4 separate regions of the Homo sapiens genome follow, and all the other regions are linked to region 1. Evidence: fine-mapped expression QTL. A gene starts in region 1. Each other region holds a variant in brackets. All regions are shown on one strand. Distances are from middle to middle.

The links.
Region 2: its variant is fine-mapped to the expression of EYA4 in left ventricle (GTEx, PIP above 0.99).
Region 3: its variant is fine-mapped to the expression of EYA4 in lung (TOPMed, PIP above 0.99).
Region 4: its variant is fine-mapped to the expression of EYA4 in esophagus muscle (GTEx, PIP above 0.99).

The regions. Positions count from the first base shown.
Region 1 is chr6:133,239,832-133,242,452 of GRCh38, forward strand. EYA4 (EYA transcriptional coactivator and phosphatase 4) reads left to right here and starts at 1,526. Exons shown (of 20, transcript NM_004100.5): 1 at 1,526-1,918. LOC124901231 (serine/arginine repetitive matrix protein 1-like) reads right to left here. Exons shown (of 3, transcript XM_047419612.1): 2 at 2,388-2,580; 3 at 489-1,825. The coding sequence ends at 955. RefSeq lists an enhancer at 1,869-2,621.
Region 2 is chr6:133,060,914-133,063,534 of GRCh38, forward strand. No RefSeq gene overlaps it. Among named protein-coding and RNA genes, the nearest start is that of LINC00326, 26 kb to the right of the region's middle. The variant A/G (reference allele first, on the strand shown) is at 1,417.
Region 3 is chr6:133,290,431-133,293,051 of GRCh38, forward strand. All of the region lies in intron 2 of EYA4 (EYA transcriptional coactivator and phosphatase 4), which reads left to right. Among named protein-coding and RNA genes, the nearest start is that of EYA4, 50 kb to the left of the region's middle. The variant C/T (reference allele first, on the strand shown) is at 1,424.
Region 4 is chr6:132,963,502-132,966,122 of GRCh38, forward strand. No RefSeq gene overlaps it. Among named protein-coding and RNA genes, the nearest start is that of LINC00326, 120 kb to the right of the region's middle. The variant G/C (reference allele first, on the strand shown) is at 1,427.

The DNA.
Region 1 (2,621 bases):
TTTATCATTTTAAATTTACAACACCACCTTTTCTAGAGCCTCTTAAGCATTGTAGATAATTCCCCACTCATTAAAAAATAAATTGTAACCATAAGTATTCAGGGTTGATACTGCTTTTGAATTAGACAGTGCTCATATCAGTTGCATAAGACCAACCTAAAGTAGAGGATGAAATCTTTTTTCTGAACCTTTTTCAGAACGTAACTTAGTGAATATATTAAAACTAAACTTTCTTTGAATGGGAGTAATTTCTACGGATTAATCTGTAATCTCTTAGACCACACCTAAGGTAATGTAGAGGTTGTTGTATCATAGGCTTTGTGATTAGAGACCACTGGATTTGTCTTTGGAAAAGTCACTCATGATTCTTTGGGCTTTGGTTTCCTCATCTTTTATACCGGCTTAATAATGACCACCGTAGAGTTGTCATGGAAGTTAAATGAACTCATGTACCATAAGTGACCAATACAATGATTGACACTCAGTGATTTATCAATAAATTAAAACATTTATTATCAATATGACAGAGAAGGTGCCGCTAAAATAGACAATAGGTTTTTGGAAGAGGTGATTAAATGGATGCAAAATTTATGGATTGTTTATTCCGTCTACCTTTGCTGTGTCCCCTGGTTGTGGCATACACACGTGTGGGTATAAAATCGTAAATCCTATGTAGTCGCGTAGTGCATGCGCAGAAGGCTTAGACACGAAATGTCATTTCAGCAATGTGCCTAGAGAAGCTCTGACGCCGCCTTGGAAGTAAGTCGTTGCTGCCTGACCTTTGGGCGTCTGGGACGGATGCCTATACCTGCACCCAGCAGCACTGGAAGGGGCCCAGGCCCTTCGCAGCACAGCCTATCCCCAGACCGCTTAGTCCTTCATAACATATATCTCCACGGAAAAGGGTATTTCCTCCCGTCAGAAAAAGCGCCCCAGTCTGGTCTGGGTTGGTTTTTATTTCACGTTGTTGCAAGTAGGCGAAGTCCCTTCTGTCTCCTCCCTTGGGGTAAGTGGAAAGGAGTCCGGCAGGGGGCCCGCAGTGGCCTGCACAGGGGAACTGGGTAGCGAGAGAGTTCCAGGCAATTCCGGGGGCTGCCCCACAGAAGCAGGTGGGGATCGACAGTGGCTCTCCGGCCCAGGGAGGAGAGCGCGGTCGCGGGTCCCTCCCCTCAGCCTGGAGGCTGCAGCCGCTCGAGTCGGCCCGGGTGGGGGCGGGGTGGGGGCGGCGCGGAGGGCACGGAGATTACGGCGGCGCCACCCGGGACATCCAGGGCCCCGAGGCCCTGGGCGGTCCCCACGCGAGATCGCAAACCATGACAATAGGCAGTCACCCGAGGTCAAATAAAAACGGAGTGGGTCCCCCGCGCGCCGCCGCCCCCCGCGTCCCTGGCGGCCTCCCCCGAGGCCCCCGGCGGCCTCACGAGCCCGCAGTAGCCGGTGGCGACGTCGCCCCCGCCCCACCTCCCTGCGCAAGTGCGAGGCTGCCGGCAGCGCGGCGCACGCTCCGGCCGTTCCCGGCTTCCGCGCAAAACTTCCATCCTGTCCACGTGAAGTTGTCGCTGCCTTAGAGAGGGGGAAAGAGCTGCGGGAAAAGCCGGGGAGTGACGACTGCGGCGGCTGGGCGCGCTCTCTCATTTTCTTTTCTTCTCCTTTCCCCCCTGTCGCAGTCCGGAGTTTTGGCTCCTCTCCTTTCCTCCTCCCCCTCGGAGCCGGCTTCTCCCTCCGCCCCGCTTCTCCCCCGCTTGTGTACGCTATTTGTTGTGGGGTGGCCGAAGGGGATGTCCTGTTTTCACCAGAGGCACAGCGCGAAGGGGAAACTTCGACACTGGAAGGAACGAGAATAAATACTTAATTACGGACGCACTGAACCGCGGCTGGGACAGACACTTCGGGAACCCGAGGCGGACCGGGCGACGAGGTGAGTGACCCCTTCTTCCAACCCCCGCCCCAGGGCTCCCGGGGGAGCCTGAGTTGAGAGAACCCCCAAACTTTCCGGGAAAGTGCGCGAGGCTCCGCCGGGGACGCCGAGCGCTGGGTACTGAGGACGCGCAGCTGGACGGTGCGTGGGCGCCTGCGTCCCCGGGGGGCGCTTGGAGGCCGGGTGCCCCACGCCTGAGGGCCCGGGCCGCTCGGACCGCAGCGGTGCTCTCTGCCCTAGAAGACGTCCCCAAGCCCCAAGGGTCCCTTCCGAGCCTGCCTGTCCCTTCCGGGGTCGGCGCGGAGCCTGCGCGTAACGGAGTTCATCCAGCAGTCCAGCGCGCGGCTTCTACCTGCACCCCGCCTCCACCTGGCAGAGGCGCGAGCATCGGGGTCTCCCCCACATCTTTCTTATGACGTGTATTACTTTCTGATGACCCCCTAGATGGTCCAGGCGCGAGGATGCTGACCCAGAGTCCTTCGGAGGGTCACAGGCGCCTGGGCTTTCCCGGTGCCGGGTGCGTGTGTACTTTAAAGGCTCGCGTTCTAATCTCCAGGCACTGATCGGGCTTTTCAACTGCGGCGATCCCACTTTAATAGTTTTTATGTGGCGTGGACTGAATGTCTCCTGCAGTTTGCCAGGGTCGGTGAAATTAGAGGCGCCTTGTCAGAGCAGTCGCGTTCATTGGCTCGAGTAGCGGGTG
Region 2 (2,621 bases), 180 kb before region 1:
GTTATGCAGGATGAATAAGTTCTGGAATCTAATGTACAGCATGGTGACTATAGTTAATAACACTGAATCATGTACTTAAAATTTGCTAAGAGAGTTGATCTGAAGTGTTTTCACCACACACAAAAAATCATAACTATGTGAGGTGATTGGTGATTGGATATGTACATTAGTTTGACTTTGACAATCATTTCACAGTGAATACCTATGTCAAATCACCACATTGTACAGCTTAAATAAATACAGCTTTGGCAAGTATACTCAAAAAAGATTGAAAATTACAAAAAACATTCTATATTAAATGTGGCAAATATGCATGCACTTTTTATTTATTCTATGAGCCTAGTACAAATTTAATTTTGCTAGCAATATTAAAGTCAATTAAGCTATGTTTTATTTACAATGGTGATAACTTTTTCACTCAAATCATTTACTATTAAAAGAAAAACAATTTTTATTATTGCATGAAACAAATATTTTTAAAAATTGATGTCAATGTTACCAATTATAATTCTTCTTTTCCATTTTTTTGTTGTTAATGAGGAAAAATATATTTAAATTTAAAAATATGTAAAAATTTAAAGTTCAATTTTTGGCTGAGTGGAAAATCCTATGGGATAAAATGGAAAGAGAAAGAGCCTCGGGGTCAGCAGACCTGGATTTTAATCCGGATTCTGTCACTTAAAAACAGTTTCTTTCTAAACTTGAATACTTTAATCTTTGTGAATTTCCAGTTTTCTGCCCTGTAGACTGGGGACAATAACACATATTTTGTAAGGCAGTAAAAAAGAGTAAATGAGAAAAAATATGGAAAATGCTTAGTTTAATATGCATAATGCTTGGCATATTAGAACACTAACTAAATGTTAATTTCTTTTCCATAGTTACATGAGCATTCTTTCATATCAATAGATCTTAATTCATCCAATGTCTCAGAATTTTTATTAGAAAAAATACTATTAAAAATTGTTTGATAATATTTTCAATCCTTAAAACTTCTGATAATTTGGCTTAATTATGTTCTTTTTTCATTAGAAGTTTCTAAATTATGTCTAATTTAATGATTGCAGTGATCAAAATTGACTCAAATGAGAAATCATTCAGGTTCTGAATTTCTAGAGGAAGAAAAGACAAAGTGGACAAAAAAAGGAAGAACGAATAAAATCTTGAACAATAGTATAGTAATTATACTGGTAGTAATTGAATAAAAAGTTATCTTCTGGATTAAACACTTAAGAGGATTTTTCCTTTACAGCCAATCCGTAGTGATGGGAGATCCACTGAAGTCATCTCATGATGTGTGTTGTCGGGCTATTTAAAGGCTGCTGTTTCACTTCCAAACTTCACTCCCTTCTGACGTCTTCAGTGCTGTTCACTTGGCAACCTTGGCTACTCTTCAGCAGATAATTTGTACTCTAC[A/G]TAAGCATTTAGAAGAACCCAGAGTTAAACCAAGGATAAGAGTCATCGGTAACATTTATAGTTACTGAACTCCTCACTATGTGTCACAAAGTGGGTCAGAGGGTGCATCTTTCAGGAGAAAAAGAACATTCTTTTAGTGCTATTTCTACTTCCACATTGATACGACAATGATTCCTACAGCTAAATTAAGGTTTGACCTCATGTGTCAAATGATTTTTGTTTAGTCAATAGATTTTTTTCTAAATGTTATCCTCTCCAAAAAAATCAGAAATTTAGCATTTAAGTTATGCATGATCACAAGTACATATATATATACACACACATATATATATGCAAGAACAGCCTTTTCTTGACAATAATTCAATGCGAGAAAAATTTAGATAAATGTATTGAATGTACAAAAGTGTAATAAAACCCCCTTTAGTTTAATAGATAAAAGAGCATTGTGGGGAGTTTTTTCTTTGCAGGGTTGGAGTATGTGCTCTGCTCATGGAAACCAGCTGTCATGCCACTTCCCAGCACTCGGAGGGAACAGAAACTTGTTTCTTCTCTACTGTTAAAGCAAAAGGGTGTGCCCAAGGCAAAGATTAGAGTGGCTGTGGATCTGCAGGTGGTTTTACGTATTTGCGGTGAGGTCAAAGAAACATCTTTTTTTGCACTTCTTCTTTTCTCCAAATTGGGCATTGCCTGAAATGGACGCATTCAGCAGCACTGTGGGATGAGATATGTACAAGGCATCATTTCCCTCTAAGGCAAATACCTTCACTGCTGGCAAACCTTCAGAATTTGCAAGCTCAGCCAGCACCTTTGACCCGGCCACACAGCTGACAGCACAGTTGGCAGTTGGTAGCTTCCATTTATCCTAGGTCAGCTCCCGAGGCATCGGCATAAAATGAAATAAAGATTTGAGCAGTCACTTCAGAAATGAAAATGGGAATGCCCAATAGTTTGCTTCAGTTTGCTCAGGCTGAGAACCATTTATTAAGCTGGTAAAATGGGAAAGTCATACATGAGAGTACCTGCTCAGGAGAAAGAAATAGATTGATCAGACACATTATCTAAAGATCCAGAAGAGAAATCCACTGATTTCTAACAGTCAACCCACTGATGGCTTGAGATGTAGTTGAGACTACCACACATTTCAGTAGGCAGATATTGTCACCTTCATATCCTCAGTGCCTAGCACTGTGCCTGGTAGTTTGTGC
Region 3 (2,621 bases), 51 kb after region 1:
CAGTCTGTTGTATCAGACATGATGTGAAAGGGGTAGACAACAACCTAGACTATATTTATTTTTCAATCTGCTAATGTGAAGAAAAAAGGGGAGGAGTTAGGTGAGATTTGGAGTCTGTAATGGTTTTTCTACACCAGGGTTTTTAGGGAGATTCTAAATAGAGCACACTCTCATTTGTTTCAATTAAATGCCTTGCCCACTTAATCTCCTTTTCGTATTGCCATGCTTGATACAGAGGGCTCCAGGACTAGTTTACTAGGTGGTAGGACCTTTAGAGATTATGCTGTCCAAATCCTTTACGTTAGTTTAACAGATGCAAAAATGGAGACTGAAAGGGTTTAAGCAGAGTGAGAACATTAACAACAACACTTTGTTTTGAAATGAGGTTTTTTGATTCGTTCCAACCTTCACACAAATTTGAAAGCATACTTTTGTGTAAGTTTCTTAATATTTGGAAATTAACATCAGCCCCAGCCTCCCTGAAAACTGTGGTGAGTTATTACTATATATAAAGATTAATGAAATAATTGCTTTTGAGTTTCTACTACAATTGGTGGATCAGGGTCATCTAAAAAAACTCAAGCAAAGGTGTGAAAACTTTATTTTGCATGTTTGTTTTTCTCCTAGTTATTATTTACTGCTCAATCAGCATTAACAGAAGAAAAATAATTTGGCTGCTAAGTTACTGTAGTATAGGATTTCAAAGGACCTTATTAGAGAGAGATGTAATTTCATCCCCTGGGCCTTTTATGTAACAGAGTGCATATTTGGGTTACTTCATTTTGACCCGGAATTAAACAATAGACTTAAGTTGTATTCAGGAAGTTAAAATATTTATTCAACAAAGATTTAAAAGCATTTTACAGTTATTTCCAAATTCCTAGGGATATCTTTATAGCTTTATTTTCTTATTTTAGCTAACTCTTGTCTGAATAGCTCCTTCATCAAAGAATTTTCTGTTTATTTCATAAATCTTATAAGATGTATGTATTTGATAACTACTGCATATAATCAGTGTTTTTTAAATAAACATCTTTGGCAAATTGATATAAACATGATTTTATATATTGCTTAACTACATATATAGGCCATAGTTTCGTTATGGTGCTCAGTAATGAAAAATATGGAGTAGATGTTACAAGTGGTAATAAAGCTAATATTAAAGAAAGTAAGGCTGAAGATTCCTAAGTTCAAAATAAAAAGGCTTTGCAGCTTCAGTTTTAGGAGCGTTTTCATAAAATGAAAGAGGCAAATAGTGCCAAGGTGCTACCAACTCCAGCTTCCTAGCAATGCAAGGATTCTTCCTTTAGCCACTTATAAAAGTGGTCACCTCAGCTCACTCTCTGTAGGACTGACTGCTTCCCCTTTCTTCTGTGATTTGCATAGTATTATCCACATTGATTCATGTTTGGGGTGATTGTTT[C/T]CATCCTCACTGTGAGATTATGAACTTCTTATTTTCTTTCCATGAAATAAAGTTTTCATTGGCTGGGATCCCAGCTAGACTGATTTTTTTTTCCTTTTTTCGTTTGTTTGCTTAATATTTTAGATTTTGAAAGTCCTTCAAAATTAAAGTACTTGCATACTATCCTAGGGCAATAATTTGTGACTGAAAATCTTTGTGAAAAATCCTAAGAGGTATTTAAAAGTTTATGTTAAGTAAGTTGTTATCAGTGGTTAAGAGGCCTTTCCAGAGTGCTTGTCCACTGGACATTTATATGGAACTTACTGTAATAGCATCTGCTTAATTTTTGGATGATGCAGACACATTCCGTTGCACAAAATTACTCTGCAAAAGTAAGTCAGGAATCACTCATGATAATTTCAGGTTATGCATACTTATTTTAGAATGTTGAATCAATTTGCTAATCTTCAAAGGAGTAAATTTTACACCAATTGCGTCTGGTTTAATAGGCTTAATATTTTCATAATGCCAGAGTAATTTTTCTTCTTAGTTTTATTCTTGCATAATTGTTGGAATTATATGTACATTGTTTTAATTCTTGAGCCCTTAATATCAAATAGCTTGAGCATTAAGGGAATTAATTGAAGGCCTTAGGATATGGGTGTTTATTACATGAACATGGATTGAATGTTGATGTTGGGATTTTAAACGGGAAGTTGCTTTGCTGTTAGATTCCATCACATTGAATGTATCAACATTTATACAAGGAAATTGGGAAGAAATGTACTCTCAGTCCCTGGTTGCTCTTTGTTTGTGAAAAGTAACAAATTTAGGAGTTGATCTAAAAGGAAAATTTTTGTGTTAATGTTTTTAAAACATTAAAGCATCTTTAAACAATATTTTTGTCTCAGATGTCTAGATGCATATTTATACCCCCAGAAATTTGAATAAGTCTGTTTAAATATTTTTGTCCTTTTCCTGAATGTCAACCCTTTGGCAGAGTGTTTATATGTTAAAGCTTGAAGAGCAAGTAGAGATCACACAGTCCAACTCTGTCATTTCATAGATGTAATTAGAGTAAACTAAGGATCAGTCTGAGTATAATGAAGTATAAAAAAGAACTTGACACTCACTGTCACACAACACAGTTGATAGAAATTTGTTGGTCATTCGTTGGCCACTGGTCATCTTCCCCCCAGGGGTCTCTGGCTTGCAATGT
Region 4 (2,621 bases), 280 kb before region 1:
CTGCTATCGCCCCATGATGAAAATGCTGCCAAGAAAATTCACACATTGCGTTTGACCCTATCCCAGGGTCCTTTTCAACACTTTGGCAGATGGAAAATGATCTCCTTCCCTGAACATCCAGGTTTTAATTAGTAGATACTGTGAATGTTCACTTCCCAATTCCTCCTTACAGATTCATATAGAAATGAACAGAATTCACCCCAAGAACTTTGTGTTCTAGTTAGGAAAACCTCATTCCTATAGGAGTGTTTTCTAACTCTTTCCTACCTACTTATCTCCATTTTCTAGTGAGTACCAGCCGCAGGATCTTTCTTATTCCTCTGATCAGGACACTGTTGGCCTCTTGTCAAAACTAACAGAATCACTCTTGCCAAAAAATACATTAGAAACTAATATTTTAAAATATATTAAAATGTCTGTGTTACAATGCATGCTAAAAACCCATTTCCAACCTATGCAGACCCAGTGTCTTCCAGGTAAAACCTATGTTCCCGCTTTGTGAGAGAGCCCCTGCTTTCTTCAAAAACAACCAATTTCGGGGCCATATTATAGATCTAGGTGAAGAGCCCACAGCACAACATAAATTAGAATTAGAATCATAACTGAAACCTTTTAGAGCGCCTATTGATTTTAACATGCCTGGTCCATAGAGGCAACCTCAGTGAGTCCACTTCCTCCTAATTTGACAGCTGCTCAGCTATGGCCAGAGCTTGGACTAATGAGGTTACAGCTGTCAGGGTTAATCAACAGATCCAAATATGAACAAGGAATTGGGTAGCTGGTTTCAGTTAATTTGTGCAAATGTACGGATTGGGTGGGCAATATTTACACTGGTGACTCAAAACAAACTTTCAGGAATGGAGCCAAAAATGATCTCACCAGTTCTCAGCTCTGCTCTGGAGAGATAAGACACAAATTACAGAAACAGGAGATGGAACACGAAAGAGTTCATAGTTTCAAACTACCCATGAAAAGCCCATTTATATCCAGCTTATTTCCCTCTTTATCAAGTATCTAATTTAATTTCTAATACTTGAGTTTCTGGTCATTCCACAAAAGGTTCTCAAACTGTCCCCTGATGATTCAGTGTGGGATGTGTGGGTCTTCTTCCCTTGCCATGGGACTTTATGTAACAGTCATCCCTCTCCCAATCTGCACACATATGAGAGCATCCAAAGTAAATGCCACAATCCCTACATGTCCATTTTGTTATGAAAACATCATTCTATTAATATAAATACAGACTGCATTTGCCAGAGCTAACTAGAACAGGTGCAAAGTCTTTAGATGCTTGCTTGCACTGAGAAATGAAAAGAGTGTACAAACAGTTTCTCTTGTGGTGGCACTGCTGGTGTCGATGTAACATTCATCTCTGTTGCATTCCTTGATGTTCATGGAAGGTAGCCCAGGAAACTCAATACAACCT[G/C]CTTGTAGGGTAGAGAAGGAAGAAGCAGGAAGAGAAAGATAGTGATGACATGGTCTCTAGGATTCTGTTTATGCAAATACTCTCCCCTTGATCTGGGGCTTGTGCGGGTTATGTATAGAGTACATTCTGTCAAATCTCCTGCTGAGAGTTAAGGGATGCTGCCAACATAAATATTCTGGTGATTCTGAATTTAGAAAACAGCTTAAAGGCTCCTGATGTTTCTGTTCTTCCTCTTCTTTTTTTTTTAATCTTATCCATGTGACTGCCACCGTGTTGCCCATGGTTTCAAATTTACTTTGTAGTTTTCCAAGCAAGAGAAAGTCATTACCTGAAAGGCACATGTGGGTTTCTGTCTGCATCATCATGGTTATCTCAACACTGCACTTCATTTTGTGGAATGAGAGCATTAAATGCATATGCCACTAGGTGGAATAGTCTTAATAAATACATAATAAATATTCTATGTGATGGTTGAGGATCTTATGTGCATGATTTTATATATTTTGGGAGTCCATCTTTAAAAGTGAGTTCCTAAGTGTATGTGTGTTAGTGTGTATTTGTACAGAATATATATATAATATATATACACACACACATATATATACTCTGCATACACATATATACATATATATGAAATCTTATATATAGTAAAAGCATATATTTAAACTTCTATATGTGTGTATATATATGAGTATATATATATACACTCTGTATGTATATGCATATATATATACTCTGTATGTATATGCATATATATATACATATACATATATATATATATACATATACATATATATATATATATACATATACATATATATATATATATATATACACACACACACACACTCTATATGCATACAGAGTATATATACAGGTTGAGTGTCCCTTATCTGAAATGCTTGGCACCAGAAGTGTTTCAGCTTTCAAGTTTTATTCAGATTTTGGAATATTTGCATTATACTTATCAGTTGAGCATCCCAAGTTCAGAAATCCAGAATCTAAAATGCCTCAATGAATATTTCCTTTGAGTAACCTATAGGTGCTCAAAAGTTTTGGATTTGGAGTGTTTCAGATTTTGGATTTTCAGATTTGGGGTGCTCAACCTGCTCAAACTCTTATATATAGTGGTTTGGGATAAGTTGTTGCCAATGTCATTGCAGCAGTAATGGTAGGAAGAATTCTAAGGTGGCCT